2 separate regions of the Homo sapiens genome follow, and region 2 is linked to region 1. Evidence: fine-mapped expression QTL. A gene starts in region 1. The other region holds a variant in brackets. All regions are shown on one strand. Distances are between the middles of the regions. Region 1 holds the start of TEAD4 (TEA domain transcription factor 4). Region 2 overlaps TEAD4 (TEA domain transcription factor 4).

Evidence for each region.
Region 2: its variant is fine-mapped to the expression of TEAD4 in lung (TOPMed, PIP above 0.99). The same link has a PIP of 0.9 or more in subcutaneous fat.

What each region holds. Positions count from the first base shown.
Region 1 is chr12:2,952,132-2,968,205 of GRCh38, forward strand. TEAD4 (TEA domain transcription factor 4) reads left to right here and starts at 7,266. Exons shown (of 13, transcript NM_003213.4): 1 at 7,266-7,350; 2 at 7,817-7,909. LOC124902859 (a long non-coding RNA gene) reads right to left here and starts at 7,917. Exons shown (of 2, transcript XR_007063159.1): 1 at 7,610-7,917; 2 at 5,467-6,094. It also overlaps the pseudogene RNU6-1315P. RefSeq lists enhancers at 7,436-8,171, 11,802-12,627, 14,540-15,039.
Region 2 is chr12:3,005,168-3,021,241 of GRCh38, forward strand. It overlaps TEAD4 (TEA domain transcription factor 4), which reads left to right. Exons shown (of 13, transcript NM_003213.4): 4 at 5,837-5,901; 5 at 7,003-7,065; 6 at 12,231-12,359; 7 at 13,378-13,421; 8 at 13,948-14,003; 9 at 15,467-15,606. Among named protein-coding and RNA genes, the nearest start is that of TEAD4, 54 kb to the left of the region's middle. RefSeq lists an enhancer at 8,469-9,310. The variant C/T (reference allele first, on the strand shown) is at 9,633.

The DNA of each region.
Region 1 (16,074 bases):
CACTTTGGGAGGCCGAGACGGGCAGATCACAAGGTCAGGAGATCGAGACCATCCTGGCTAACATGGTGAAACCCGTCTGTACTAAAAATACAAAAAATTAGCTGGGTGTGGTGGCGGGCGCCTGTAATCCCAGCTACTTGGGAGGCTGAGGCAGGAGAATCGCTTGAACCCGGAAGGTGGAGGTTGTAGTCAGCCAAGATCGCGCCACTGCACTCCAGCCTGGGTGACAGAGCGAGACTCCGTCTCAAAAAAAAAAAAAGAAAAAAAAAGAAACAAAACAAAAAACAGGAAATGGTCTGTTTTGTCCTTCAAAGCACAAAATGAAGTTCAGCTGATGTCAAGTGAACATTCTCTTAAGGAAAAAAGTAAATAAAAGTATAGGATGGGCCGGGTGCAGTGGCTCACACCTGTAATCCTAGGACTTTGGGAGGCCAAGGTGGGCGGATCACTTGAGGCCAGGAGTTCAAGACCAGCCTGGCCAAGATGGCAAAACCCCATCTCTACTAAAAAAAAAAAAAACATAAATAAATAAATAAATATAGGATGGAGAGGTTAAAAAAGAAAAAGCACCTGAGTCACAGCTGACCAGCAGGAGTCATTGCATAATACTTTCCAAGGTATGGGGAGCAGCTTTGGGGAAATCTCCAAAGCAAGATGTGGCCCGGCACAGTGGCTCACACCAGTAATCCCAACACTTAGGAGGTCCAAGGCAGGAAGATGGCTTGAGGCCAGGAGTTTGAGACCAGCTTGAGCATATAGGGCAATCTTGTCTTTACAAAGAAAAATTTTTTTAATTAGTCAAGTGAAGTGGTGCACACCTGTAGTCTCAGCTACTTGGGAGGCTAGGGTGGGAGAATCACTTGAGCCCAGGGAGTGAAGACTGCCGTGAGCCCTGATTGCACCACTGCACTGCAGCCTGGGCAACAGAGCGAGACACTGTCTCAAAAATAAAAAAAAAAAGAAAAATATTTGCCTTTCACCTAAAAGCTAGGAAACAATCTCTCTTTACTCTGTCAGTTTCCTATTAGGCCATTCAATCCAGCTGTCAGTTGTTTGTTTGGTGGGAATGGTTTGATTTACTGGGGAAAAAAGTTTCTAGAGTTGTAAACTGGCAGTCAGCAATAGTTGAAACAAATATGTAGGATAATGAGTGGATCGATAAGAAGTCTAGAAGACTTACATGGTGGCGTTTACTCAGAACCTATTCATTGAGTTCTTCTAATCCTATATAATCTCTTTGCTACCACCACCAGCTTTATTGAGGTATAGTTAACAAATAAAAATTGTATATATTTATGGTGTACAATGTGCATTTTTTTTTTTTGAGACGAAGTCTCGCTCTGTCGCCCAGGCTGGAGGGCAGTGGCACAATCTCGGCTCACTCTGCCTCCTGGGTTCCATGGTTGGCCACGCTAGTCTCGAACTCCTGACCTCAGATGATCTGCCCACCTTGGCCTCCCAAAGTGCTAGGATTACAGACTTGAGCCACCGTGCCTGGCCACATTTTTTTTTTTTGAGACGGAGCCTTGCTCTGTCGCCAGGGCTGTAGTGCAGTGGTGTGATCTCGGCTCACTGCAACCTCCGCCTCCCAGGTTCAAGCGATTCTCCTGCCTCAGCCTTCCAAGTACCTGGGAATACAGGTGCGTGCCACCACGCCCAGCTAATTTTTGTATTTTTAGTAGAGACGGGGTTTCACCATGTTGGCCAGGATGGTCTTGATCTCTTACCTCGTCATCCGCCTGCCTCAGCCTCCCAAAGTGCTAGGATTACAGGCGTGTGCCACCACGCCCAGCCTTTTTTTTTTTTTTTTGAGATGGAGTCTCACTCTGTTGCCCAGGCCGGACTGCAGTGGTGCCATCTCGGCTCACTGCAAGCTCCGCCTCCCGGGTTCACACCATTCTCCTGTCTCAGCCTCCCGAGTAGCTGGGACCACAGGCGCCTGCCACCACGCCCGGCTAATTTTTTGTATTTTTAGTAGAGACGGGGTTTCACCGTGTTAGCCAGGATAGTCTCGATCTCCTGACCTCGTGATCCGCCCGCCTTGGCCTCCCAAAGTACTGGGATTACAGGCGTGAGCCACCGCGCCTGGCCTTTTTTTTTTTTTTTTTTTTTTAATGGAAGACTTCACGAATTTGTGAGCTCGGGGCCATGCTAATCTTCTCTGTATCAGTATCCAATTTTAGTATATGTGCTGCCCAGGCAAGCACCACAATGTGATATTTTCATATGTGTAAAGGGTTTTGTTTTTTAAAGATGTGGAGAAATTAGGGAAGGGTTAGATATATAGTTCTAGTCACATTTGTCCCTGATTATAAACTACAAGTTTGTTACAGAAAATAAAGAATAGGAGGCCGGGCGCTGTGGCTCACGCCTGTAATCCCAGCACTTTGGGAGGCCGAGGCGGGTGGATCACGAGGTCAGGAGATTGAGACCATCCTGGCTAACAAGATGAAACCCCGTCTCTACTAAAAAATACAAAAAATCAGCCCGGCGTTGTGGCGGGCGCCTGTAGTCCCAGCTACTCAGGAGGCTGAGGCAGGAGAATGGCGTGAACCCAGTAGGCAGAGCTTGCAGTGAGCCGAGATGGCGTCACTGCACTCCAGCCGGGGCAGCAGAGCGAGACTCCGTCTCAAAAAAAAAAGAAAAGAAAAGAAAGAATAGGGCTGGGTGCAGTGGTGCATGCCTGTAATCCCAGCTACTGGGGAGGCTGAGGCAGGAGAATTGCTTGAACCTGGGAGGCGCACGTTGCAGTGAGCCAAGATTGTGCCATTGCACTCCAGCCTGGGCGACGAAAGCAAAATTCTGTCTTAAAAAAAAAAAAAAAAAGAATAAAAACAAGAAACTAGATCCCCTTAATTTGCAAACTTTCAGAAATAATCCCTTTAAAATACTTTTTCAACTTTTTTCAAAAACAGGGTCATCTGATATATAGTTTTTATTTATTTATTTATTTTATTTTATTTTTTGGAGACGGAGTTTCGCTCTTGCTGCCCAGGCTAGAGTGCAATGGCGCAATCTCTGCTCACCGCAACCTCTGCCTCCAGCGTTCAAGCAATTCTCCTGTCTCAGCCTCCTGAGTAGCTGGGATTACAGGCATGCGCCACCACGCCCGGCTAATTTTCTATTTTTAGTAGAGACGGGGTTTCTCCACGTTGGTCAGGCTGGTCTCGAACTCTCAACCTCAGGTGATCCGCCCGCCTCAGCCTCCCAAAGTGCTGGGATTACAGGTGTCAGCCACCACGCCCAGCTATTTATTTATTTTTTGAAATGGAGTTTCACTCTTGCTGCCCAGGCTGGAGTGCAACGGTGCGATTTAGGCTCACTGCCACCTCCACCTCCTGTGTTCAAGTGATTCTCCTGCCTCAGCCTCCCAAGTTGCTGGGACTAAAGGCGCGTGCCATCGCGCCTGGCTAATTTTTTGTATTTTTAGTAGAGATGGGGTTTCACCATGTTGGCAAGGCTGGTCTCGAACTCCTGACCTCAGGTGATCCGCCTGTCTCAGCCTCCCAAAGTGCTGGAATTACAGGTGTGAGCCACCATGCCCAGCCCCTATATATAATTTTTAGAATCTGCTTTTCCACTTATATCATGAATGTGTCTGGTTTATTTTATATTATTTTATTTATTTTTTCTGAGACAACGTCTTGCTCTGTCGCCCAGGCTGGAATGCAGTGGCGAGGTCACGACTCACTGCAGCCTTGACCTCCCGAGCTCAAACAAGCCTCCCACTTCAGCCTCCCAAGTAGCTGGGACCAGAGGTGTGTGCTACTATGCCCAGCTAATTTTTATTTATTTATTTATTTGGTAGAGGTAAGGTCTCATTATATTGCTCAGGCTGGTCTCAAACTCCTGGGCTGAAGAGATCCTCCAACCTCGGCCTCCCAAAGTACTGGGATTACTGATGTGAGCCACTGTGCCCAATTAATTGATTTTTAACTTTGACTTTGGAATATAGCCAACACAAATACCCCTACATGAAACCACCCAGCCCTGCCCACACCCTTACTCTCCTCCTCCTGCACAGTCCATCATCAAGCTTGAGTGAGGATCCATTTGTAGGATCCAGACAGCTGAAATATTTCCACCAAAAGACTCATTCCTGAGGGTCAGTGAATTAGGGTCCTGTCCCTTAAGAAATGTAAACATCCCTGGGAAGGGCTGATGTGTGGGTAAAATCACCTTGCCTTTAACTCTTCAGAATTTGTACATCTGTTAACTTTCCTTTACCTAGACATTCCTCAACAGCTCCAAGCCTGAGGTCCCCAAAGCTCCAGAGCTCTCCAGGAGACTATAAGGGTATGGGCCAGAAAGTCAAGATCCTGAAGACACACCTTCCCAGCTTGGATCACTGATGGTCTTGGATAGTTAAGACTTAGAGGGAATAAAGATCTCCAAGTTCGTTGTCAGCAGTCTACCCTAACCGTGACACTAGGGTTGCTTTCCTGTTTCTACTCTGGACTCTGTCCTGCTTTCCTCTCCGTCCCCTGAACCTGGCTGGATTCCCCTCCGACCTCACCCCACTCCCCTTTTGCTTGAATTTCTTTCTTTCTTTTTTTTTTTTTTGAGACGGAGTTTCATTCTTTTTGCCCAGGCTGCAGTGCAATGTCGTGATCTCAGCTCACTGCAACCTCCACCTCCTGGGTTCAAGTGATTCTCCTGCCTCAGCCTCCCGAGTAGCTGGGATTACAGGCATGCACCACCACGCCCAGCTAATATTGTATTTTTAGTAGAGATGGGGTTTCTCCATGTTGGTCAGGCTGGTCTGGAACTCCTGACCTCGTGATCCACCCACCTCAGCCTCCCAAAGTGCTGGGATTACAGGTATGAGCCACTGTGCCCAGCCCTGAATTCTTATCTCACTTACTGACACCAACCATTGTTCAGCTGTTAAAGGTTAGCGATTTTTGTTTTCTCTCTCACTACACAGCCAAATGATCTGAACCGTTTCCTAGCTCCTTCCCCTCCTCCTCAACCTCAGGACCACTGCTTGAGTTTTAGGGCACCCCGAGTCTCCAGTTCAACTGCAAGACTGTTGCAAGACGGTCTTCTTGATGGTGCTGCTGATTAAGTCACACTTGTGTCTTTTTTGATGCCTAACTCTTCAGCATGGCACGCAATGACCTTCAAAGTCTGGTATCCACTTCCTTCAATCTTATTATCCACATCTCTATTCTCCAGCCACACCAGTTTACATAGCTTCGCTAAACACACCAGCAGACTGGCTGCCTCACCTTTGTAGGTGCTATTCCATGTGTCTTAAATGGGGTTTCCAGTCTCAGTTTGGCAAACCCTCATTTATCCTCAAGAGCTAGATCAAATGCACTGTAATTGGATTTCACTGTTCCTTCCCTTGGGTTCCCATTGAACTTTGCATAATTGTCTGTCTTCTCACCTAGACTGGAACTACTTGAGGAAAGGGACCTACTCCTTCCCTTAGTGCGGTGTCAAAGTCAACAAACACTCCAATGATTGCTGAATTAATATAATTATTATTAATTACTTTGAGACAGGGTTTCGCTCTGTCATCCAGGCTGGTGTGTAGTGGTGCATTCACGGCTCACTGCAGCCTCAACTTTCTGGGGTCAAACTATCCTCCCACCTCAGCCTCCTGAGTAGCTGGGACTACAGGTGCAGGCCACCATGATGCCCAGGCTGATCTCGAACTCCTGGGCTCAAGCGATCCACCTGCCTCGGCCTCCCAAATTGCTAAGATGACAGGCGTGAGCCACCGGGCCCCCCATGATTGCTGAATTAAATAGTTGGTGCTTAGTGTGTACTTCACGTGGCGCTGATATGCTGCCTTGCGTTTTGGTCTTTTCATGTGCATGAGGTGTGACCAAGCCTTGATATGATTCATTATTTAACAAGAATACCACAATTCATCTATTCAAATGAGGGCTGCGTCTTCAACGCCTTCACCTTGCAGGACTGGATGCTTAGCTCAGTCATTGCTTGAAACACTTTTGGAATACCTCTCTTGGAAACAACTTTGGCATCGATAGCACTTTCCTTTCAATATCTTCCACGGTAGCAATTGTTTTTCATTTATGCAGCATTTATCATGCACTTCCCTATCCCAGGCACCAGGCTGGATCTGTGTGAAAGATAAGATAAATCAGACATTACTCTGTCTTCAAGGAAGTTTCTGTTTGGCAAGGGAGATAAGATCTAGACAACCACCCAACACAAGGCTAAGTGATAATGCCCCAGAAAAGGTTGGATTTGATTTTTGGAAAAAGCCAAAAGTCCTTTGGTTTCAGTCTCCTGGCCAGGTAGATGATGGCGCTACCTGCCAGCACACTGCTTTAAGCCCGTTTGTCCTAAGCGTCTCCAAACAAGGAGCCCAGCGTGTTTCCAGCACCTCCTGCCCCAATAAGAGACTCCTGGGCATGTGTGTCTGAAGTCCAGACTCTCACCGATGGCAGTATACACCGAGGCCTCCCCAGCTAAACTCTGAGCTCTTTGAGGGCAGGTGCTGACGGCTGATCCTGATCTTCACAGTATCTGGACTCATCACACATCTTAGATGAATATTCATTGAGTCACTGAGCCCAGAAGGCGTCCCATGGCATGCCACATGGACTTCAAACCGAGTGCCCTTTCTCCCATGTGGTTTACTCGTAGTGGCGGTTTTACAGATGCCCAAGGGGCAGGAGAGAAAAACGGAAAGAGCTAAAGCCGGGGAGGGCAAGCGAGGGGGCACTGGCAGCGGATCTGGGAATGGAGCCCGCGAGTTCCTGCTTCCTGGTTCCCCGGAGCAAGTGTCCTTTGGTGGGAGCCGCAGGAAGGGAGCAGCCCTTCCTGCGCGCCGGGAGCCCGCCCCTTCCCCGGCCTCCCAGGGACTCGTGCGGAGGGACGCCGGGTGGCGGGGCGGGAGTCTGGGCCCCGTCCACCCCCCCGCCCCCGGGACAGCCCCACCCCGGCGAAGAGGAAGGCTCTCGGCTCCTGGGAAAGGGAGTCGGGACCCCGCCAGGAGGGGAGGGCGCGGGGCGCGCAACGAGCAGCCAAACAGTCGGAGCGGAGAGATCGAAGGGCTAGTGGGCGTGGGGGCCGCAGCCGAGGCCCGGGTGGAGGGGTCCCCGCCGTCCCTCGGCCCCCTCCCCCGCCGCCCGCCCCGGCCCGGCCCGGCCCCGCCCCGCCCCGGCGGCCCGGCCCCTCGCCCGCCCGCGCGCGGCGCAGTCTCCTCCCCGAGGTGCCGGTGGCCCCGCCGCCACTCCCTCCGGCTCCCTCCCTCCCGCCGCGGCGCGCATCTCATTCCAGCCCTCATTCCGCGCATTCCAGCGTCCTCCTCGCACACTCGAGGCCAGGGGGCGGGAGGGCCGCAGCTCCGGCGCCGCCGCGTCCCGCCAGGTGAGAGGCGCCCGCGCCCGCCGCACCCGCCGGCGCCCTCACGGGCCGCGCGCCCCACGCCGCCGCAGCCGACCGCTCGCGCCGCGTGCTCGGCTGCTCTTTTCTTTCCGCCGCCCGCGTTCCCGCCTTGGACCTCTGCGCTCCGACGCGCTCCGTCCCGACCTCTGGCTTCCCTCCGCGCTCCGGCGCTGCTCGCTGCCCCTCTCCCGCTTCCCTCCTGTCCGCCCCGCGCTCCCCTCCTCGCTCCCGGTTGACTCACTCCTCCAGGAATAGGGATCCCCGTGTTTTCCCGTCAGTCCCATTCTGGGAAAACTCCTCCCTCCGCGCGCTCCGCTCCGCTCCGCTGGGCGCACCGGGGCCGGTCGGCGCGGGGTGGGCTTGGCCCCGCGGCCCCGCCTTCACTGCGCCGCCCGTCGGCCCCGGCCGGAGCCCGGCTCTGCGCGCTGACGCCCTGTCGTCCCCGCAGAACGATCGCCGCGGCCGGAAGAGTTGGCGCTCGGGGCGGACTCCTTGGAACTGGCTTAGCGCACCCATCCCACCTTCCCGCACCCTGGGACCGGTAAGGCTGGGGCGCGGGGACTTGGTAGGACTTTGCCGGAGGGCAGGAGTCTGCGCGGTGCGTGCGGAGCTCCCTCCCGGGACGAGACTGGGAAGAGCGAGGCACGTGGAGGCGGCGCGACTGAGGCTGCTGGAGGCGAAGCGGCTCCAGGGGCGGGTAAGGGGGGTGGACACTCGGGACTTTGGGGGAAAGGGAGGCCGGTGTGGAAAGGACCGGAGAGGCAGAACCGAGAGCATCGGCAACAGAAGAGACCCAGCACCCATGCCTCTTTTCTGCTGGGCCCTTTTCGAGCCTGGAAGGGAGAGACCTGGAGGTAAGCGGACTGCCTGTTTTAAGTGCAAAGGCGATGCGAAAGTCGGGGGACCCCTGCAAAAGGTCCTACACCTCAGGGCTTGGGAAGCTGCTGTGTTTCCTGATGGGGACTAGTGGATCGATCCAGGGAGCAGAACTTTCAAACCCCAAAGTGAACATTTCCCCCGTTGTGCTGAGGCACTTGAGGCCCCGCGGACTGACTGCGTCTGTGCTGAGTCTGTGTGACACCTGACTGCGAGTCCCCCTCGCTTTGAGTCTCTGTGTGGGTGATGTCTGTTCACGTGTGGCTCACCTTGGCTTCCAGTGGGCGTATTTGTTTGTGTTGAACGTGAGTGACAGAGTGTGTGTATATGTCTGCGTGAGAAGGGGCTGTCTGAAAGTGAGTATCTCTGAGTAGGTGTGTGATGCCACGTCTCTTGAGTATGTGTTTCTCTTCGAGGATGTTGGTTCTGGCTAGGACTGTTCTTCCTCCCTACATAGCCGTGGGCAAGAGTCAGTGTCTCTGGTTGCCTGAGTGCAGGGATAATTTGACTGTGGTTTTGGAGTGTGTGGCCTCCAGGCTCCGTTTCCCCTGGACCGGGCAGAGCTGGAAGGAAGCTGGCTCCACCTGCCTCTTGGAGCCAGGAGGCTGACTTTCTCAGGGCGAGGGTCTTGTGCTTGCCTGGAATAGGTCAAAAAGCTGGTAGGAGGCTGAAGGAAGTTGAGATCTTTGCCTTTGGGGGATGGGATGGGCGGGTGAGATTTGGGAAGGTTTGTCGGGGTGGATCCCCGGGAAAAGGAGACAGTTTTGAATCTGGAGACTTGTGTAAATAGTGCTTTTAAGTTGCCCTCAAGGACAAACAGGGAGGTATACCAGCCTGAACTACTTTTCCTGGTTTAACTCTCCTCGGAGCTGACCAGGTAACCCAGTAGAAGAATCCCTCATTCTTTCCAACTTGCCAGACACTCAGCACTTCCTTTGAGAAGAGGAATGAGTAGCTTGTTGCATGAGGGCTTCAACGTGGATATCATGTGTAGGGCTTCTTGGAAGGAAGGAGCCAGAAACTGTCTCGGGGGTTGGGGGTTCTCGTCCTTGCTCCTCCATCCATCCTGAGGATGTGGATGTTCTTGTGGGAAACACCTCACCCTCTCACCTCTTCGGCCTGGTGTGCGACTGGTCTAAAAGCAGCACTGATGGAGTGGAAAGGGCACAGGTTTGGGGTCAGGCAGACCAGGGTACAAATCCTGAGTCTCTCACTACCTTTAAGGCTCTCAGGCTGTTTCCTGGTGGGTAATACGAGCGGAGCTTTTCTGTCCAGAAAGTTTCTTGTGAAAAGTCGATGTCTGCAGAGCCCCCACCCAGCAGCACAGTGCCTGGCACATCCCATGGACTCCATAGGATAGCTGTTGTATCCAGTGTTTCCTTCGCTTATTTCAGTAAGAACCCCTTTTTCCTAGGGATTAGTGTTTTTTGAATTAGTGTTTCTCTGAGCACCATTTGAGAAACCTTGCCCTGTCTATCATGTTTATTTAGCAAACATGAATCGAGCATTTACTGTGAGCCAGGCCCTACGCTGTGTTCCGCGTCCTTAGGAATCCAGGGTCCTAGTGGCCCAGGTCAGGAGGGAGGGGGACAGACAGGGCTTTGTCACCAGAGAACAGAGTGCCAGCTTCTATTTTCTGATTCCAGTTTTGCCTTGGCCCCAGGGTGAGCTTGCTGAACATTATTAGATACCCTAATGTCAGCATCTAAGTCCCCCATTTTATTTTATTTTACTTTATTTTTATTTTATTTTATTTTATTTATTTTTGAGACGGAGTCTCGCTCTGTCGCCTAGGCAGTAGTACAGTGGCATGATCTTGGCTCACTGCAACCTCCGCCTCCTGGGTTCAAGCGATTCTCCTGCCTCAGCCTCCCGGCCGGCTAGTTTCATATATATATATTTATATATATTTATTTATATATATAAATATAAATATATAAATATATATATAAATATAAATATATATATATATTTTTTGAGATGGAGTTTCGCTCTTGTTGCCTAGGCTGGAGTGCGATGGTGCGATCTCGGCTCACCACAACCTCTGCCTCCCGGGTTCAAGCGATTCTCCTGCCTCAGCCTCCCAAGTAGCTAGAATTATAGGCGTGCGCCACCGTGCCCCACTAATTTTGTATTTTTAGTGGAGACGGAGTTTCTCCATGTTGGTCAGGCTGGTCTCCAACTCCCAACCTCAGGTGATCTGCCCACCTTGGCCTCCTAAAGTGCTGAGATTATAGGCATGAGCCACCACTCCCAGCCGTTTTTTGTATTTTTAGTAGAGGCGGGATTTCGCCATGTTTGCCATGCTGGTCTTGAACTCCTGACCTCAGGTGATCCGCCTCGGCCTCCCAAAGTGCTGGGATTACAGGCGTGAGCCACTGCGCCTGGCCTAAGTCTCCCATTTTAAAGATGGGGAAACTGATGCTCCTAGAGGGACAGTAACTTGCTTAATGCCGCAACCCTGGTGAGTGGCAGAGCAGGGATTAGAACCTATGCTCTCCCCTTGGCGTTCTGTCTCCTGCCCTGTGGATTGCAGTGCTTGTACACCCCCTACTCCCCCTAGCCGCCTTCATCCAACAGGCGCGGAAGCTGGAGCAGACTGACTTGGGCCATGCCTTGTCGCTCAGATAAGGTTGGTAGGAGGCAGAAATACTCTGCTCCGACCTGGCAGAAAGCACATAGCTGTTCTGGGGAAGGAGCCATCTCACTGTAGAATCTGTGGAGTCGGGAAGGGGCCCTCGGGTCTTTAAAACACACCCTCCTCTCCCCTTGATGAGCCGGCAGGTGAAGGTTCTCCCTATCTTTTTAGATCTCCTGGGTTGCAAATGTCACAACCTCCTTTGATTTCCACTCTGGAGTCTTGCCCCGGTGACTGTCACAAAGCAATGCCTGTTGCCAAACCTGTGGCTCCTCCTTCTCCTTCCCAGTGGAAGTGGAGGACGTTGGTCCCCAGCTTTGGACCTTGCCTTTCCTGCAGTTGAGGTCAGTCCAGTGGCAGTTGGAAATTCAGGGCTTGTGAGGGTGGCTTTACCTTGCCTGTCTTCCTTTGCCCCCATGACCCTTTGTTGGCCGGGGTTGGACGACAGCTCCCTTTAAAGCTCTGAAATTGGAGCTGAACAGCTGCTGTCCAGTAAAGGGGGGTGAGGGGGCTGTCAGCAGCCAGGAGGGCCCAGGTGGAGGTGGGGGCAGGGCTTTGTCACTGGGGAGAACACGGTCTCCAGCTCCTATCTTCTAATTCCACTTTTGCCTGGACGCTTTCTGAGATGACGGTTCTTCCCTTGCTTTTGGTTTTTCCCGCTACTATCTGGGAGATTCTAATCACACCTGTGTGATCTGGCCCTGGGGCCCTTAGCTGGTGGGGACTGGATATTTGGGAAAATTTCCACTAGAACTCAGGTCTCCAAGATCTATGCCCACGTCCTCCTGCATTTAATACAGGGGGGCTCCTGGAAGGGCCAGAGGATGGGCCAGGCTCCCTGTAGCGGGGGCTGGCTCCTTGGCTTGGTGTGGGCAGGCGGGCCCCCATGGGTGGGGACTCTGCTTCCTTTGACCCAAACTTCATGGGAACAATAGACTTCAGAGGAGTCACCAGGGGCAGGAAATGGGAACTGTGCAGAGCCAGGGGTGACCCTCCTGGGGGATGGGATTGCATATCCGGTAGAGGGTTGGGGGCAGTGCAGAGGGCGCTGGGGAGGGGCTGATGACACATAGGGTGGGCCTCTGGGGTGGGGCCCTCCTCCAAAGGGGGCCGTTGACTCAGTGTGAAGCTAGAGCTCCGTGCCGGTTCTGTGCTGAGCTTTCGGCTCTTACTAGCACAGGGCTCGTGTTTGCCAGCCTCCGCTCGTGCCACGCTCGCCCCTGCCAGGACTTGGTCTTCCCCTTCCCCTCAAGCCCCTGAGATGTCTTTGCGAATCATCCTGGCTGGGATAAAAGGCTGGTGTTGTTGCTCCCTGGCTGGTCTCCACCTTGGCTGTGAGCCTTGGGCAGTTGTGGCTGGAACGGCGATCTTGGGTTGTGGGCAAAGCTCTGGACAGGGAGTCCCCAGGCTGGGGTCGCTGGACAACGTGAGGGATTTCTTTCTTTCTTTTTTTTTTTTTTTGAGACGGAGTTTTGCTTTTGTTGCCCAGGCTGGAGTGCAGTGCTGCAATCTTGGCACACCACAACGTCTGCCTCCTGGATTCAAGCGATTCTCCTGCCTCAGCCTCCTGAGTAGCTGGGATTACAGGTGCCTGCCACCACACCTGGCTAATTTTTTTTTTTTTTTTTTTGTATTTTTAACAGAGACAGGGTATTTCCATGTTGGCCAGGCTGGTCTCGAACTCCCAACCTCAGGTGATCCACCCGCCTCGGCCTCCCAGAGTGCTGGGATTACAGGCGTGAACCACCGTGCGCCTGGCCATGGGGGATTTCTTTAGCCGCAGGCAGAGCGAGACAGTGGGTGGAACGTTCTGGAGGCGGAGGACTCTTGTCTTGCCTCCATCTTTGTAAGGGTCGACCAGACTTTGTGAGGAGGCCACAGCTTACCCTGAGAGAATTGTGAGTCAGGCCACACAAGCTGCTTTGCCTGAGTTCAGGTTGCCGGATTCTCACAGATAGGCTTTGGGGTCCCAAGAGAAGGTGTAGGAGTGACCCCAGAACCACTGCCAGGACCTGGAAGGAGGGTAGGAGTAGGAGAGACAACACATGCTGTCTTGATTTGTTTCTTCAAGGAAGCAAGATGGGGACCCTGGAAATGGCAGACTCCTAGAATTGATTCCTTGCCCAATTCTTGGTTAGATTTTGTTTTTTAATGATTTTTTATTTTTTGAGACAGAGACTCACTTTGTCACCCGGGCTGGAGTTCAGTGGTGCAATCATGGCTCACTCCTTGAACTCCTGGGCTCAAGCAATCCTCATTGCCTTAACCTGAGTAGCTGGGACTACAGGTATACGCCACCACACCTGGCTAATTTGTAAAGTTTTTTTGTGGAGGTAGGGTCTCGCTTTGTTGTCCAGGCAGAACTCAAACTCCTGGGCTCAAGCAATCCTCCTACCTTGGCCTCCCAAAGTGCTAGAACTGCAGATGTGAGCCATCATACCCTGCCAATTTAAAATTTTCTAGTAGCCACCTTAAAAAAAAAAAGTGAAGTTAATGTTGGTGTTTTCTTAAACCCTAGTGTTATCAAAAATAATTTCAGTGTAATAATTTTTTTTTGAGACGGAGTCTCGCTCTTTCGCCCAGGCTGGAGGGCAGTGGGGTGATCTTGGCTCACTGCAAGCTCCGCCTCCCGGGTTCACTCCATTCTCCTGCCTCAGCCTCCCCAGTAGCTGGGACTACAGGCACCCGCCACCTAATTTTTTTGTATTTTTTAGTAGAGACGGGGTTTCACCATGTTAGCCAGGATGGTCTTGATCTCTCTACCTTGTGATCCACCCATCTCGGCCTCCCAAAGTGCTGGGATTACAGGCGTGAGCCACCGCGCCCGGCCATAAATTTTTTTAAATTATCATTATTATTATTATCGTAGACAGTGTCTTGCTCTGTCACCCAGGATGGAGTGCAGTGATGCGGTCATGGCTTATGCAGCCTTGACCTCCCAGGATCAAGCAATCCTCCCACCTCAGCCTCCTCAGTAGCTGGGACTGCAGGTGTACACGGTTGCACTCAGCCTAGGTTAGATTTTTGAACAAAAATATGTGGAGAGTGTGAAAATGAAGTGAGATACCTAGTAGCCAACCTGGGTTCACTCTACCAAGTCTTGGAGAAAACAACTCTAACTTGGGTGGAGGAATGTTCAGTAAGCCTTTTCAGTCTAATGATCTTCTTGGTACAAGAGAAAGCAGTGTGGTCTGGCTGATACAGCAGGGAGATGGATGTGTGACTGCTTGACCCACTACGCTGGATGCTGACTCCTAACTCCTGAGCTTGTGTTACTGTGAAGAGGTCCCCGTGATGTGCCGCAGGGCTGTCTTTGGCTTAGTCCTCTATGTTTTCCATAGATACGAGCCTCTCCCAGGAGCCTGTGTGGCCTGTGTCTTCTGTTTCTCATTTCTTTTTCTTTCTTTTTTTTTTTTTGAGATGGGTCTTGCTCTGTCACCAGGCTGGAGTGCAGTGGCGTGATCTTGGCTCACTGCAACCTCTGCCTCCTGGGTTCAAGCAATTCTCATGCCTCAGCCTCCCAAGTAGCTGGGATTACAAGCACACGCCACCATGCCCAGCTAATTTTTTTGTATTTTTAGTAGAAACAGGGTTTCACCATATTGGTCAGACTGGTTTCGAACTCCTGACCTTGTGATCTGCCCGCCTTGACCTCCCAGAGTGTTGGTATTACAGGTGTGAGCCACCATGCCCGGCGTATTTCTTTTTTTTGAGATGGAGTCTCGCCCTATTGCCTAGGCCGGAGTACAGTGGTGCGATCTCGGCTCACTGCAACCTCCGCCTCCTGGGTTCAAGCGATTCTCCTGCCTCAGCTTCCTGAGTAGCTGGGATTACAGGCACCTGCCACCACGCCTGGCTAATTTTTGTATTTTTAGTAGAAATGTGGTTTCACCATGCTGGCCAGGCTGGTCTTGAACTCCCGACCTCAGGCGATCCACCTGCCTTGGCCTCCCAAAGTGCTGGGATTACAGGAGTGAACCACCGCACCTGACCCTGTTTCTCGTTTTTATGGGCGTTGAGGGTAGCAAACATTGGCTGATAGAACCAGGGTTCAAAATCATCTCAGTTGACTGGAATGCTGCCATTAAGTAGAAAGATGAAGTTTAAAAATATTTCTCTCTTAAAATTAATATATGTACATTGTAGGAACCCTGGAAAATAAAGAAAGGCATAAAGGAAAAAAATGATACATAATACTATAATTCGGGTGGGCTGGTATTTCGGTGAATGTCCTTCCAAATTTGTGTTCATGCAAATCTATATATTTTAACATAATTGCAATTATACTCTATCCCGTTTTTTTCCCTACTGAATGCTATCTAATGGGTAATAGTGCATGTCATAAAAAATACTTAAAACCATAATTTTAAGGATCCAAGTAACATTGCATTCTATGACTATACTATATTTAACTATGCCCTACTGACTTTAAAACATTGTTTTTAGTTTTTAGCTTTTAAAAATTACTTGACATTGAGCAATGTTGAACATATACTTATCTCAAGAAGAAATGTAATAGGTCTAAGTGTAACATCCTGCATTTAAGTTCAAAGCATCAATTATGTAAGTCTAGAATAGAGTGGGACTTACTCTTCATTCATGTTGAGGGAAAAGGCTTGGGGTTTTGGGCTGAAAAACGAAGGAAGAGGGAAATGAACATTTTAATGCCTGTTAGGTGCTAGACCATTATTCTAGACATTTCTGCCTTCATCATCTCATTTCATCCTCTCAGCCCTGTGAGAAAGGTTTGGTTTGTTTTTGTTTTGTTTTTCAACCTCTACTTTACAGAGGGGACACTGTAGAAGTTATACTGCAGTTGGAGTTTGGACCCAGGTCAATCTGACTCTCAAACTGCCCCATTAAACCATAAGCCTGTGTGGGCCAGTGCTGTGGTAAGGTCTGTGTCAAGGGAAACCTTTACTCACTAAGCTCTGTGACCCTCTGGCCACATTGGAAGCCACATCTGGTTTTGGAAAGTTTATATATCCTGAGCTGTTAAGTATTGAGCTCGCCATTTTTGTGGGTCTTCCTCTACCCCCAACCAGTGATCTGATCTCAAACATGTGGGTCTTTTTTTTTTTTTTTTTTTTGAGACGGAGTTTCGCTCTTGTTGCTCAGGTTGGAGTGCAATGGCGTGATCTCGACTCACCGCAGCCTCCACCTTCCGGGTTCAAGCGATTCTCCTGCCACAG
Region 2 (16,074 bases), 53 kb after region 1:
GTGCTCACAGCAGCAGAGAGTAGAATGGTGGTTACTGGAGGCTGGGGCGGGCATGACGGGGAGATGTTGGTCAAAGAATATAGTTTCAGTTAGATGGGGAAATGTTTTTGGTTTCTAGTTTTTGTTTTTCCGTTTTGTTTGTTTTAGACAAGGTCTTACTCTCCCTCCCTGGCAGAAGTGCAGTGGTGTGATCACAGCTCACTGCAGCCTCAATCTCCTGGACTCAAGTGACCCTCCTGCCTCAGCTTCCTGAGTAGTTGGGACTACAGGCATGTGCTACCACGCCTGGCTAATTTTTTATTTTTATTTTTATTATTTTTATTTATTTTGTTTGTTTATTTTTTTTTGAGACAGAGTCTCGCTCTATCGCCCAGGCTGGAGTGCAATGGTGCAATCTCGGCTCACTGCAAGCTCTGCCTCCTGGGTTCAAGCCATTCTCCTGCCTCAGCCTCCCGAGTAGCTGGGACTACAGGCGCCCGCCACCATGCCCGGCTATATTTTTTTTGTATTTTTAGTAGAGACGGGGTTTCATTGTGTTAGCCAAGATGGTCTCAATCTCCTGACCTCGTGATCCGCCTGCCTTGCCCACCCAAAGTGCTGGAATTATAGGCGTGAGCCACCGCACCCAGACTTATTTTTATTTTTTTGTAGAGATGGAGTGGGTTTCACTATGTTGCCCAGGCTGATCTTGAATTCCTGGGCTTGGGCGATCTTCCTGCCTCAGGCTCCCAAAGTGCTGGGGTTATAGGTGTGAGTCATGACGCCCAGTCAAGGAGGAATGTTTTTGGAGACCTATTGCCCAGCATGGTGACTGTAGCGAATAATAACGTATTGCATTTTTCATAAGTTGCTAAGAAAGTAAATTTCATGTTCTCATCATGAAAAATGATAAGTATTTGAAATGATGGGTATGTTAATTATTTGATTCAATCATTGCAGATTATATACGTATATCATAACATCACTTTGTACCCCATAAATACAGGTTGAGCATCCCAAATCTGAAAATTCAAAATCTGAAATACTCCAAAGTTCGAAACTTTTTGAGATGTGTGCCTCGAAGGAGATGCTCGTTGGACCGTTTTGGATTTCGGATTTTAGGATTAGGGATGCTCAGCTGGCAAGTATATAGTGCAGATAGCCCCCAAATTTGAAAAAAACCCCAAATCTGGAACACTTCTGGTTCCAAGCATTTTAGATAAGGGCTAGTCAACCAGTATGTACAGTTTAAAAAAAGAAAGAAAAGCCAGGCGTGGTGGTTCACACCTGTAATCCCAGCACTTTGGGAGGTTGAGGTGGGCAGATCACCTGAGGTTGGGAGTTCGAGACCAGCCTGACCAACATGGAGAAACCTTATCTCTACTAAAACTACAAAATTAGCTGGGCGTTGCCTGTAATCCCAACTACTTGGGAGGCTGAGGCAGGAGAATCACTTGAACCTGGGAGGCGGAGGTTGTGGTGAGCCAAGATCGCGCCATTTCACTCCAGCCTAGGCAACAGAGCGAAACTCCGTCTCAAAAAAGTGAAAAATAAAAATAATCAAAAATAAAGAAGAAAGAAAAAAAATACAAAGATGGGCCGGGTGTGGTGGCTGATGCCTGTAATCCCAGCACTTTTGGAGGCTGAGATGGGCAGATTACTTGAGGTCAGGAGTTCGAGACCAGCCTGGCCAACATGGTAAAACCTGTCTCTACTAAAAATAACAAAAATTAGCCAGGTGTGGTGGTGTGCGCCTGTAATCCCAGCTACTTGGGAGGCTGAGGTGGGAGAATCACTGGAACCCAGGAGGTGGAGGTTGCGGTAAGCCGAGATCACACCAGCTGCACTTCAGCCTGGGCGACAGCGAGACTCCCTCTCAAAACAAAACAAAAAAGAAGACGGCTGAGCTTGCCTTAGACCCCTTGGTGTGGCTCCTGTCCCGCCCCATTACTAGCCTCTCGCCGGGGGCTGAGACGGCCTTTCTAGCAGCAGAGCCCTGGAACCTTGTGGCAGAGGGTGAGGGTAGTTGTGGGGTGGTGGGCAGGGGCTCCTTGCAGAGGCTGAGTCCTCTGTGATGTTTGGGGTTAGGGTCTCAGCTGATGGGGGCCAAGGCCTCCCTACTGCTTCTCACCACAGGCTGCAGAGGAAGCAGCACTGTTACGGGGCAGTCCTGCCTGATGAGAGGAGGTTCCATTAACTAAGCATCCTCGCTTGGCCAGGCCTCGGGCCATATTCAAGCACCTGAGCCAAGAGTCACACCTGGGCAGTTAGTCCTAGGTCTGCTGTGGGTGATCTGGTGCAGTTCTCTGGCAAATAGGTATAATTACCTGCCCACTGCAGGGAGGAGGTGGATTTACTGTGAAGTTAATGAGGTTTACGCGTTAGGACCCAGCACTTACATGGGCCCCTTCCAAGTCCCTAAACTTAATTTTTGCTTCATTGAAGTATAACTGACATTACAACAAACTGTACATGCTTAAAGTGGCCAAGTTGATACATTTTGACAGATGTATGCACCTGTGAAGCCATCACCACCATCAAGATAATGAATGTGTCCATTGCCCCCAAGTTTTTAACCTAATTTTGTATTTTTAAAATTCTTTTTCCCAAAGGGAGCCTCCCAATTGCTAAATGTCTTAGGCCTCACAAAAGTCTGGGTTTGCTCATGTACAGAAAAGTTCAATGAGACCAGGATAGGACAGCGCCTTAAGAGTTACGTCGGACTAATCAGAAGTAAAAGGTTATTTGCATGTATTTAACTTACTCCTTTGTCTTAGAAGGCTAAAACAGTTACGGGACATCTGACCAGCATCTTAGCATTCATTCCCTCATCATTCAGGCAGCAAGTATTTATTGAGCGCCTACAATGTGCAGGCAGTTTTCTAGGTGGTGGGTATAAATAAGTGAATAAATAGACCAAAAATCCCTATTCGCATGGACTGTGGTTCTGACGGGGGTGAGGGCACAGACAGTACTGAAATAAGTTAGATTATGTATTATGCTAGAAGGTGCTGTGGAGGAAAGTAAAGGCAGTGGGTGCCAGGGTGGGCGGGTAGGAGTATGATTTCAGCCCTCAGTGGGGTGGTCAGGGAAGAGACAGTGGCACCCAAGGGGTGCAGGTGGTGTGGGACTCTGGGGCAGAGTGTTCCCTGGAGGAGAAACAGGAAGCACAAGGACCATAGTGGGGCAGGTGTGGGCCTGGTGTGTTTCAGGACAGCAAGAAGTTTAGGATGGATCGGGTAGACTAGATCAGAGAGGTGACTGAACTGGGGTGGCCAGATCCTGCAGGGGTTTCCAGGCCGTTGTAAGGACTTGGACACTGTTAATCTGGGGCAGATGGAAGCCATTGGAGGGCTTTTGAATTTCGATAGGGTCGCTGCAGCTGCTGTGTTGAGCATAGACTTGGAGCAGGGAATACAGGTGGAAGGTGATGATCCTAATCCAAGTCAGAGATGGCGGGAGCTTGGACCCTGGAGGGTGCGGTGGTGCACAGTGGCTGTATGAATTCTGGATATGTTTTGGAGGTAGAGCCACACCAGACTCATTCATTCATTCAGTGAGTAGGTGCCAGGTACTGGAGATGCAGACTTGAATGGAGGCATAGTCTCTTCCTCTGAGCTGTTGAGAGTCTAACAAGGAAAGACAGACATGGATAACTGATGAGCACACGATATCCTGTGTGCAAGGGACGGGCCAGAGGAGCAACCAAGAACCGTATCCCAGATGGTCTGCCATCCCCATCCCTCCTGCTACACCGTCACCCACTTCGCAGCTCTTGGGAACCTCTCTTCTTCCCTCATGCTTTTCCTTGCCCGTAGACTAGTCTCTGAGCTGGGTTACTTACTTGGGCCTAGAGCATGTTCATTTTACCGAAAAGGATACTGAGCCACAGAGTGTTCTCACTGAGCCAGCGTTGAGGTCTGTTTCCTACATCTGTAGAAATTTGGAAGAATCTGCGGGAAAAACCTTAAAGGAACTAGATTTAAGAAGAGACGGCTGGGCTGGGTGCAGTGGCTCACGCCTGTAATCCCAGCACTTTGGGAGGCTGATGCGGGTGGATCACTTGAGGTCAGGAGTTCGAGACCAGCCTGGCCAACATGGTGAAACTCTGCCTCTACTTAAAATACAAAAAAATTAGCTGGGCATGGTGGTACGCACCTGTAATCCCAGCTACTTGGGAGGCTGAGGCAGGAGAATCGCTTGAACCCGGGAGGCGGAGGTTGCAGTGAGCCGAGATCGTGCCATTGCACGCCAGCCTGGGGGACAAGAGCGAGACTTCGTCTAAAAAAAATAAAAAATAAAAATAAAGAAGAAGAGAAGGCTGAGTGAAAGTCCTTAAAGGGAAGAGACTTACCGTGCTCCCAAAGCTCATTGGTGGAGCTGCCAGGCTCTAGCCTGGCTCACCAGCTCCCAGGTCTGTGGCCCTACTTCATTCACCCACCGGTGATGACTTAGACCCGAGATGCTGCATGGGTGGCTTTAGTTAGACCTGGGGTAGAACTGTCGACCGTTCACTGGACCGCCAAAGCCTTTCCCTAGAAAGCTTTGAGAGGAGACATCTTGTGGACTCAGGGTTTCAGGTGCAGATCAGACCACAGACAGTGTCCCCAGACTCCGATTCTCCCCCCACTCCTTCCTCTGACACAGACGAGGCAGTGGTCCCAGGCCAGCACACCTTTTCTGGCAGACAGTACCTCTGGAGAGTAGCCTCGTAATTCGGCCTTGGCATTGGGGAAAGGTCAGCTGGGGGGTCAGCTTGGCCTTGGCCGTGCACTCTGGTTACAACCCAGGTGGCAGGCAGCCCACTCCCCTCACCTCCCCGGGCATCAGCAGCTGCCTCCCACGGACAGCCGCAAGCCCTCCCGGTTCCGCAGCACAGGGCGGGCTGGCACCTGCTCCCTCTGATCCCCCCACTCAAACCCTCTTGCTCTGCCTCTCCTCATCCGATGCTTCTCCGTATGGTTTAACACTAGCCAGGGGTGAAGGGCCACCCAAGGGCTTGCCTGACCACCCAGCCCGAACTGGCCCCCGGTCCTCTGAACACGTCCCTGTCCGTAGCACCCCTGGATTCCATTGTGTGGGCACATGCCGCTCCTGAACTAGGTAATGCTTTGAAATAAGGAACCCCTTTCCATCATCTTTTTCAATACTGGAAACCATGGATGCTCTGGGGTTTTCCAGGATGCTTCAGGCGTAGCAGCAGTCCCTCGGGGGCTGGGCCCATGGAGAGTGCTCAACCTTCCTTGTTGAGGGGTCTGAGTCAGCCATGGGGCTGCACATGTGCACTGACTGGCTTTTCTTTATGAGCGGACGGGCTCAGGCCTCCTCTCCAGGGACACTAAGTGTCTCCAGCAGTTGCACCCCCCATGCCCGCTGCTGCCTGCAGACAGGACAAGAAGTCTGGACGCTTCTACTCGTTTACAGAGGCGGAGGGCACGGTGGCAGTCACACAGGGCAAGGCCGAGGGCCGGGCAGCTCCCTGGAGCCTCCCAAGTGTGAAGAAGGCCCAGGAGAAAGTGTGGGGAGAGGAGAGGAGGCCGCCAGCGCTGGGTGAGGAACGGTACCGGGGGTCAAGGGAGGCTCTGGAAGTTCCTCAGGCTGTGCGTGGTTGGTGGCCACGGGCCCTGTTAACCTTGTTCTCGGGTTTCAGTCCCCACAGTGAGGCCTTGTCTTCCTCTCGCTGCTGGGAGATCCCTGTGATCCAGAGAGGGAACCCACAGAATCCTCACCCCACAAATCCGCTTAGGATGGGCAGAGAGTGAGGGCAGGGCTCCTCCGCAGAAGGTACCCCGCACCCCCTCACTGCTTCCAGCCTTTTGTCCTTCTCTCCACTGAGAGGCTGCTGGTGTCTCTGCAGGTCGGAACGAGCTGATTGCCCGCTACATCAAGCTCCGGACAGGGAAGACCCGCACCAGGAAGCAGGTGGGCCTCAAGAGACGGGTAGGGGTCCCGGGGGTGGTACCCCAGCACCAGTCTGCTCCCAAGGTGGGCCAGGCCCTCCCAGGACCAGACGCAGGCTTTTGAGGGGCGGCAGCTCTGGATGAGTTATCCCTGTTGGGCGTGTCACAGGTGGTCCAGTTTTCTTTTTCTTTCTTTTTTCTGAGACGGGGTTTCACTCATGTTGCCCAGACTGGAGTACAATGACGTGATCTCGGCTCACCGCAACCTTCTCCTCCTGGGTTCAAGTGATTCTCCTGCCTCAGCCTACCGAGTAGCTGGGGTTATAGTCACCCGCCACAATGCCCGGCTAATTTTTTGTATTTTTAGTAGAGACGGGGTTTCACCACATTGGCCAGGCTGGTCTCGAATTCCTGACCTCATGTAATCCACCCGCCTTGGCCTCCCAAAGTGGTAGGATTATAGGCGTGAGCCACCACCCCCGGCCGGGTGGTCCAGTTTTCTTGGGGTCCCTGCTGCCATCACTTAGGAGGAAACCCCTCGCCTCTCTGGAAAGTCATCAGCCCCCATCTCATCCTTCTCCAGGACACTAGGACAGACAGTAAAACATTGGCACTACTTTTCTTTTTTGTTGTTGTTGAGACAGAGTCCTGCTCTGTTGCCCAGGCTGGAGTGCAGTGGCGCAATCTCAACTCACTGCAACCTCCGCTTCCCAGGTTCAAGCGATTCTCCTACCTCAGCCTTCCGAGTAGCTGGAATTACAGGCATGCGCCACCACACCCAGCTAATTTTTGTATTTTTAGTAGAAATGGAGTTTCACTGTGTTGGCCAGGCTGGTCTCGAACTCCTGACCTCAAGTGATCCACCTGCCTTGGCCTCCCAAAGTGTTGGGATTACAGGTGTGAGCCACTGCTCCCTGCCGGCACTGCACTTTTGAAATACTGCCGGTTTCTGGATTAGCTGGGCAAGGCAGGACTGAGGGCCCACCAGTTGACCCTTTCATTCATTCATTCATTTGGTCCACAGATGTGGGTTGAGGGCTGTGGAGGGCGAGAGTCAGGAAGCCAGGCTGGGGAACACAGGTTGTTGGGAGGTAGAGACAGGAGTCCTCTCTCCCTGCCACAGGTCTCCAGCCACATCCAGGTGCTGGCTCGTCGCAAAGCTCGCGAGATCCAGGCCAAGCTAAAGGTAAGGAAACTGCAGTGGGGGTGCTGGAGTGGCCAGGAGTGGTGGCCAGCAGCATATCTTCCCTTTGGGGTCAGGGCATCACTGCTGGTGTGCAAGTCAGTGTGCTTTTCTCTCTGTTGAGGAGAGCCAGGTTGGGCCTGTAACCTCTCTCCCATCCGCACAAGAGGGCCAAGTGTGTGGATGCCTGGCTCCCCACACCCTGGGAGCTACAGGCCAGGCTCCTGCTGGGATCCCCCCTTGCTGGCTCCTGCTTAGAGGGGCTCACACGGCTCAGAGCAGCCGGATCACCCACCAGCCCTCATTTCTTGAGGGCCCCTCAGTGCCCTCGACCAGAGCATGCGGAGTGGCAGGGGCATGGGGGGGTGCCTGCTGTGGGGGTGGGGGTGGCGTTTATGGTACTGTGGGAGCTGGCAAATTCCTTCCTGCTTCCTGTCCTGTGGGACTGGGTGTTCCTTCCCTTCCCTGGGTCAGCCCCGTCTTGCAGGGCCTCTGCTGATAGGTGATGGCTCTGGGGGGCCTGATGTTGCTGGCATTCCCCTCGGGGTAGCCCTGCTCCCCACAGGAGTCAGGCCTCTGGGACCCTGGAACCAGGGGCCTTTGGGTGAACACTGGGAGGGAGTGAGCTCTCCATCAGGGAGGTGATGACGACAGAGGCTACACAGCAAGTTGGTGGGAAGATCTGACATTTGAGGCATTAAGTCTAGACCATTTATAAACATTTTTATTTATTTATTTTTAGAGACAGGATCTGTCTCTGTCACCCACGCTCAGTGCAGTGACGCAGTCATAGCTCACTGCAGCCTCGACCTCATAAGCTCCAATCACACTCCCACCTCAGCCTCCTGAGTATCTGGGACCACAGGCAAGTGCCACTGCACGGCCATTTTTTTCTATTTTTTTATAGAGATGAGGTCTCCCTATTTTGCCTGAGCGGGTCATAAACCCCTGGGCTCAAGAGATCTTCCTGCCTTGGCCTCTCAAAGTGCTGAAATTATAGGCATGAGCCACTGGGCCTGGCCTGCAAACATTTTTTTTTTTTTTTTTTTAGCAATGTAGCCCCTTTTCTTTTCTTCCCCCAACAAAATATCACCCTGATGTGTTATCAGAGGAGCCGTTCTGGTCAAAGCTAGGTTGGCAAAGCTCCTCTCCTCCCGCGCATCCTTTCCCACCCCATGGAACTTGAACTCTAGGGGACCTCAGAATCCAGTTTAAAAGCTACTGGGAGGCCAGGCGCGGTGGCTCACGCCTGTAAGCACTTTGGGAGGCCGAGTTGGGCGGATCACTTGAGGTCAGGAGTTCAAGACCAGCCTGGCCAACATGGTGAAACCCTGTCTCTACTAAAAATATAAAAATTAGCCAGGTGTGGTGGCACACAGCTGTAATCCCAGCTACTCGGGAGGCTGAGGCAGGAGAATCACTTGAACCTGGGAAGTGGAGGTTGCAGTGAGCCAAGATAGTGCCACTGCACACCAGTCTGGGCAACAGAGTGAGACTCCATCTCAAAAAAAGCCACTGGGCTAGCTGGGCATGCACGCCTGTAATCCCAGGTACTTGGAGGTTGAGGCCAGGAGTTGGAGGCTGCGGTGGGCTGTGATTGCACCTGTGACTGGCCACTTCAGCCTGGGCAACATTGTGAGACCCCATCTCTGAAAATATTTTTTATATTAAAGAAAAGCCACTGAATTAGATGACCTTGAAAGTCCCTTCTGGCCCTGGCAGTTCATGATCCTGACACTGGAATCTCAGAACGAGTGGGTGGGAACCACAGACCTTTCTGCCTCCTAGGAAGCCACACCCCACTGCCCACTCAGTTCCATTCCTCCTGCCATCAGCCCAGCTGTTCCCCAAGCCCCACAGCTGTGGCCTGGCACCTCGCTCCTTTTTCCCTGGGACAGCTGACCAGCCCTCAGCTGTTGCTCCCGCCTCTCAGCCTCAGCTTCCACAGCCATGGAACCCAGCCCTGCTCCCTGTTTCCCCTCTTTCGTCTGCCTCTGACTCACCGGGACCCTGCAGATGACCACGGTGAACAGACTTCCCACTACTGGGTTTAGGGCAATCCCTTGGGGGCCGGCTGTGTGGCCCACATTTGCTTCAGGGAATTGTACTTGTCCTTGTCCACAGGTTCTGACCTGGGGCCCAAGGACAGCCTTCAGTGGATGGCTGGACAGACACCAAGGGGAGCCATAAACTCCTTAAAATATGCAAATTTTCATGTATATGTGAGTTGCCTTGGAGAGATTGCTGTGAGGATTTTGTCATATTCTCAAAGGATCTAGAACCCAAAGTGATTAAGCTCTGGGTTGGACAGTGATCCAATAGAAATCCCTGAGTGAGAGGCTGGGTCCTAGGCCTGGCTCTGCCCCGTGGCCGTGAGTGCTTGGGCAGAGTCACTGGGACCTCCTGGAGCTCCAGTTTCCTCATCTGTAAAGTGACAGGCGAGCAAGGTGACATCCAAGTTCCCCTCCCGGCCCCGGTTAGTGGCTCCCTGGCTCCATTGCCCGGCTACTGCTGTCACTCCCCATCGGGTCCTTCCCACTTCCTCTGACCCCTGCCCCACCCTGCCCAGG[C/T]CGCGGTTTCCTGAGCCCCAGCCGTTTGTTTAGATCGAGTATCCAGGAAGGCAGGCACTGAGTAGATGCAGCCCCGGCCTCGTGATGGAGTTGTTAAGTGCCGAGGTCTTCGGGCTCGCAAGGGTGCGCCTGCCAAGTCCCTCATGCCCTCCTGCGGGGAGAGGTCAGGGGCTGGCCTGGGCACTTTCCTCCTGAAAATTCCAAGTGTCCTGGGAGGAGACACACACTTAGACTTACTAGTTAGCTCCCTCTTTGGTTATCAGAGACAGCCTCTGAGAGCAAAGCCCAAGTTTGGCCCCAAAAGGACAGTGGGGAGGGGGCCAAGGGGGGCCAGGGACAAACCTCATCTATTTCACTGCTTTGTCCACATCGACAATGACCCACTACTCGGAACAGTTCCCTACTCCCCACCGCCCTCTATGGTGCGTCTCCCCCGACCCCTTGGTTTGCATGGCCCCCCGTGTGCCAGTCTGGTCCAAGCTCACCTGGTCACCATCACCACTCTCAGCACCCTAGTCACCCAAATTCTCAGAGCCTCAGTTTCTTCATCTTAATGATCCTACAAGTCCTGTCAGTCTCACAGGACTCAGTGAGGTTGTGTTCTTGAAAACCTTCCGTGGGCTGCCTCATGCCACATGGGTGAAATGGTCACCTTGAGAGGATGAGTGGAAGGGCCTGCTGTGTTCTGGCTTCACACCTGCACGGCACCAGGATGGCGGGGGAGCACTGAGCCTCTCTGAGCCTCCCTGAGCCTCCAGGCCGCGGTGCTGCCCACCTCATGGAGCTGCGTGTGGACCGCGTGGAGGCATCCCTCGGAAGAGCTGGCGAGCTGCAGGGCTCACCGTTGCTTCTCAACTTCTGTTTTTAGTTTGTGTTTTAGAGACTCCACTCTGTCACCCAGGCTGGAGTGCAGTAGTGCTGTCACAGCTCACTGCAGCCTCGACCTCCTGGGCTGAGGCCATCCTCCTGCCTCAGCCTCCCAAGTAGTTGGGAGGTTCTCAACCTTTGTATCACTTAAGGGAGATCCAGGTCTACCAAGTTAATTATTATTAGTTATTCAATAATGGTTTTATCTTTGTCATTAAAAAAAAATTCATGGGTGGGGGCGGTGGCTCATGCCTATAATCCAGCACTGGGAGGTCGAGGCAGGAGGATCACATGAAGCCAGGCGTTTGAGGCCAGCCTGGGCTAATGAGATGCTGTCTGAAAAAATAATAATCATCATAAAGATATTTATTTATTTATTTAGACAGATTCTTGCTCCGTTGCCCAGGCTGGAGTGTAGTGGTGCAATCTCAGCTCACTGCAGCCCCTGCTTCCCAGGTTTAAGCAATCCTCCCACCTCAGCTCCTTGAGTAGCTTGGCCTGCAGGCACACACCACCACACCTGGCTAATTTTTGTATTTTTTGTAGAGCCAGGGTTTCACCAAGTTGCCCAGGCTGGCCTAGAACTCCTGGGCTCAAGCGATCTACCAACCTCAGCCTCTCCAGGAGCTGGGATTACAGGCATGAACCACCACTTCCGGCCAGGTATCAAATTTCTAATCAGAGCCCCTGAGTTGACTCAGTCGAGCCATTTAGCCCCGATAAAGCTGCAGACAGTGAATAATACTTGCTGTTCCAGCCCGTGTGTGTGTGGTCTTATTTTGGATAATCCCTGCTGGGTACAGTAACGCATGCCCGTGGTCCCAGCTACTCAGGAGGCTGAGATGGGTGGATCATTTGAGCCCAGGAGTTTGAGGCTGTAGTGAGCCATGATTGTGCAGTACTCTAGCCTGTGCGACAGAGTGAGACCCTGTCTCTGGAAAAAAAAAAAAAAAGAAGAAGAAAAAGACACAGTTTCCATTAGGCTTCTTGAAATAGGGAATGTTGTGTCATTGGTTTTGAAGACCTTTGGAATTCGGGCACTCAGGATGGAAACCACTGGCTTATATGAATATAACAAACGATTACTATTGTTACCCGTGCCATCCAAGTGGCTTTCCCTGTGTGCTTATTTGTTCCGGGCCTATTCAGGGTGAACCCATCCTCTGGGGTCTTGGAACCTTTGGAGGGCAGACAGTGGGTATTTACACTCTGACACATGAAAGATGGGTGAGTCCCAGGTGCCTACAGTGCCCAGGGAGATCCTTAGGGCAGGACTGAGGCAGGAGGGGCCACAGGAGGTGGTCTCTTGCCTCCAGACAGCCCGTGTGGCCAGGGATGATGCTTCCTGTGCACTCGAGGAGGGATCCAGCAGATATTCATGCATCGTTTTCACAAGACAGGTGCTGAGCTAGGCACCTGTGGTAGAGAGGTGAGCAAGGCATAGAAGGTGGCCCCGTAATTAATAAAATGACAGATAATGTCTCTGTAAGCTCTGATGAAAGAAGCAGGGCAAGTATCATGCCCCTTTGACAGATGAGAAAACTGACCAGAGAAACCAGCTGACTTTCTCAGTTGCAAAACAAGTTAATAGCACGGCACAGACTTAACGCCTGGTCCCCCAGCTCTGGCCACTGGCAGCGAGACAGCTTCCCTGACCCGAGGGCCGGACCTGCCTGGCCTCAGCCTGACTAGTGACCCTGCTGAGGTCCTCCCTTGCAATGTCTCCCCCAGGACCAGGCAGCTAAGGACAAGGCCCTGCAGAGCATGGCTGCCATGTCGTCTGCACAGATCATCTCCGCCACGGCCTTCCACAGTAGCATGGCCCTCGCCCGGGGCCCCGGCCGCCCAGCAGTCTCAGGGGTAAGTGGGCTGCCGAGAGCTGGAGGCCAGGCCAGCCCTCTCCTCCTCCCTCCTCCCTGTTCAGAAGAGCCAGAAGCATTGGCCAGCCCAGATTTCTCTCACCTGAGTCCTCTTGGCCAGGGCAGTCAGGGAAGGAGGGAACAAGGACCCAAGGGCCACACACATCCCGGCTTGGCTGGTATTGGGACGGCTTTCTTGGGGTCCTCGGCAATGACTCCACAGACTTCACAAGGGGGAAGGGGGAGCTTCCAGGAGCTGACCACCTGGTAGCTCTGCCATGTTGGCCTAATTTACAGATGAGGAAGCTGAAGCCAAGGGGGCTGAGCGGAAGCCTGAGACCAGCATGTACCTGGGCAGCTCGTGCCACGCAGCCTCATTCCTGCCCTCCTGCCAGGTGGAGAGCTGGTGCCCCAAAAACAAACCCCTGGTCAGATTTTAACTTTCCCAGCCATGACCATGTTGGCCACACTCTCAGAATGATCCAGAAAGGCCCCTTTTCAGAGCTGTCTCCTCACAGGGGCTTTCTTGGCTCCAGGGACTAAATGAGTCTTCAAGGCACCTGCAGCACCGCCCTAGGCACGTGGGGAAGGGGCAGTGCCAGGCCACAGCATTTTTCAAAGTGCGTCCCAGAGAGCACTAGTCCATCTGCATGTTAAACAGATAGGACACAGTGGTTCTGTGAGTAAGTTTGGGACCCTTGGCATTAAGTGGGTTCTTGGCACTGGGACTTTTCTGAGCCTTAGGTCTGCACTGTGACTCTGCAGGAGTTGCCCTGTGCTGTGTGGACCACACCTGGGTGCTTTTCCCATGGAGCCCCTCCTCCACAGGGCCTGAGAGCCCCCTGAAACTCACTCTGGGGGTGCTGCTGTGGCCTGTTAGCATTCACTAGCTAGGCGAGGCCTCGGGCTCCAGCCTCTCCTCCCAGTGGAGGCCCTGCCCGGTCCTACCCCCACCCCCACACCACAGGGCCCCGGGTGCACCTGGGGCCGTGCTGATTCCATGCCTTTTGCCTCCTCAGTTTTGGCAAGGAGCTTTGCCAGGCCAAGCCGGAACGTCCCATGAGTGAGTATGGCCTCTGGTTTCTCTTGCCAGTTGCTCCCTGAACTGAACTTGAACCCATAAACTCATGGCATTAAGCCTGGGCCCCAGGGTGTGCTGGGGCCGCTGCTGGGGTCGGCCTTTCAGGATGGCTCTGAGCTCAGGGATTGGGCTCTTCTACTGTCAGCCATCACTGGGCTCATCTGTGATGTCTACACCCTAGGGTGGTATTTGCCAAAACTCCAGTCTGTCCAGGGTATAGGCAGGGCCAGAGCTGGGGTCCCCCAGGGGAGGAGGCTGGGAAGCAGACCTCTGGCTGGCCTGGGAGGAGGAGAGGGAGGGGTGGATTTCTTCAGCAGACACGCTGTGTCTGTGGACCCGCCACGAAACCCAGGGGAGTCGGCAGGGGCGGGAGTAGGAGGCCAAGGCCCATCGGGACCACTGAAATCCAGACCACCAGGACCTACCACACAGACCACTGGACCCAGTGCAGGGATCCGGGGCGGTGGCCTGCCCGAGGCTGACACCTCCCCTCCTCTCTCTCCCGCAGTGTGAAGCCTTTCTCTCAGCAAACCTATGCTGTCCAGCCTCCGCTGCCTCTGCCAGGTGGGTGGGCGCTGCGTGGCCCCCTTTCTATCGCAGCCATGTGGCTCCTGCCTCTGGGTCCAGGCCCCCGGCAGCCGAACGCCTGCGTGTCCCTGTTAGATGCTGCCCCGTCATGCACACTGACCACACGTCCTAGTCCCTGGCCACACCCCATTCCTTTCCCCCAGCATGCACACCTCAGCCGTGTGCCAAGCCCCTTCATGCCCCTCGGGTTGCCTTGCTCCTGTCCCCTCAAAGCTGTGCTCAGGGCTTGTGGGGCACGTGCAGTTCCAAGGGCAGTGCCCGTGCCCTGGCGGCTGCCCCACTTGGCCGGCCTTGTTACTGCAGTGTGCCTCACACACCTGGTCCTGGGAGGGCCGAGGGGTGTCTAGCTCACCAGCCTGGAGCCCCTCCCGAGAAGAGGGACCCTTGTGGGAGAAGACCTGGTGGAGGCAGCCAGCGGTGCTGACAGGAGCCCCCACCCCGCCCTCTCACTGACAGGCTCTGCTCTGTCCTCGTCTCTTTCTCAGGAGGGGCCCTCACCACCTCCCACTCTGTAGGACAAGACCAGCTCCTCACTCTTAAACTGCCCTTTCTGGTGTGGAGTCTGCCTGCCCGGCCCCTTGGCTTTCCCTGCCACCAAGAGCAGCCCTGCTGCCTTCTGTCCCCCAGGTCCTGAAGGCTGCTTTCTCTCGTTCACACATCAAAACAAAGTCACAGCGTCAGGTCCCGTCCACCCTCTGTCTCATGCCAGTCTTCTGTCCACACTGACCATGTCTTCACTCCAGGCCTGCTGGCTTTTGCCTGCGTTCCTGCAGCAGCCTCTCCACCGGCTCGCTGTCCCGTCTCACCTCCTCTCGTCACCCTGTCACTCACCAGAGCTTCAGTCTCACGGTGTTGCTTCCAGGTTTATGGTGCCTTCCTGGCCCCCTGGTGCCTTCAGGACACGATCTAAACTACAGTAGGACTGGAGTAGGTTCATCTGTTAGCAACGCTGGATTGAGGGGCTCTTCTGGGCCAGGCCCTGTTCTGGGAGCGGGGGAGACACATGTGATGCAAACAGGAAACGTCCCCGTCTCTCCGGGATGATGCCATATTGTAATAGTGGATTCATCTGGTTATTTCCCCGACTGGAACAGAAGTTGCTTGAGGGCAGGAACTTAACAGTGCCTGTTCTGGAAGCCTCTCGGTCCTGCAGGGCCCCAGCTGCCCTCCAGAATCCAGTCTTGCTCGGCGGTTCCATGCAGAGTGCTGAGTGGCCCGAGTTGTACCAGGCGAGCCCCTCCCCACCAGGGCAGCTCCAGGATGCCCTGGCCCAAGCCTGGCACTCCCTCCACCACCTCTGCTAGGAGGTCCATTTAGGGAGACAGGCGGTCCCCCCAGGCAGCACGGGTCTGTCCGAGGAGGCCTGGGGTCCTTGCAGAGGGTGCGGGCAGGGCGGGTGTCCGTGACCAGGTTCCATGTGCCTTTCTCACTTTGTGCAGGGTTTGAGTCTCCTGCAGGGCCCGCCCCATCGCCCTCTGCGCCCCCGGCACCCCCATGGCAGGGCCGCAGCGTGGCCAGCTCCAAGCTCTGGATGTTGGAGTTCTCTGCCTTCCTGGAGCAGCAGCAGGACCCGGACACGGTAGGTCCTGGCCTCTGCCTGTCCAGCTCCCTGGTCACCCCCTCTCCCTCTGTTTCTGCTTCCGGCAGTCTTGCCCCACTCCATGCTGGGGCTTAATTCAAGTTCCCTGTTCCTTTCCGATCTTCCCTTCTGCCCTTCCCCCCACTCCTCCTTTCCTCCTTCACGTCACCCCTCTTCCCTCTTTCCCTCCTCCCTGGCTTCCTTTCCGTGTCCCAGCGCCCAGTCAGCGTCACGCTCCTCCCTCCCTGTCCTGTGTTCCTCCTCCCCTCCTAACCCAACCGACCCTTAGTCCAAGGTTGCTCTGGTCCCAGCCCCACCCCTACACTGTCCCAGCCTCTCTCTGGTTCTGAGAAGCGGGCAGGAAGCTGAGGAGTCTCCTGTGTCTGCTCCATATCCTATGGGATACCAGCCTGTCCCCTTCGGTGTCCAGTGTCCTGGGTGACCAGCGTCACCTGCAAAGGTCAGAGG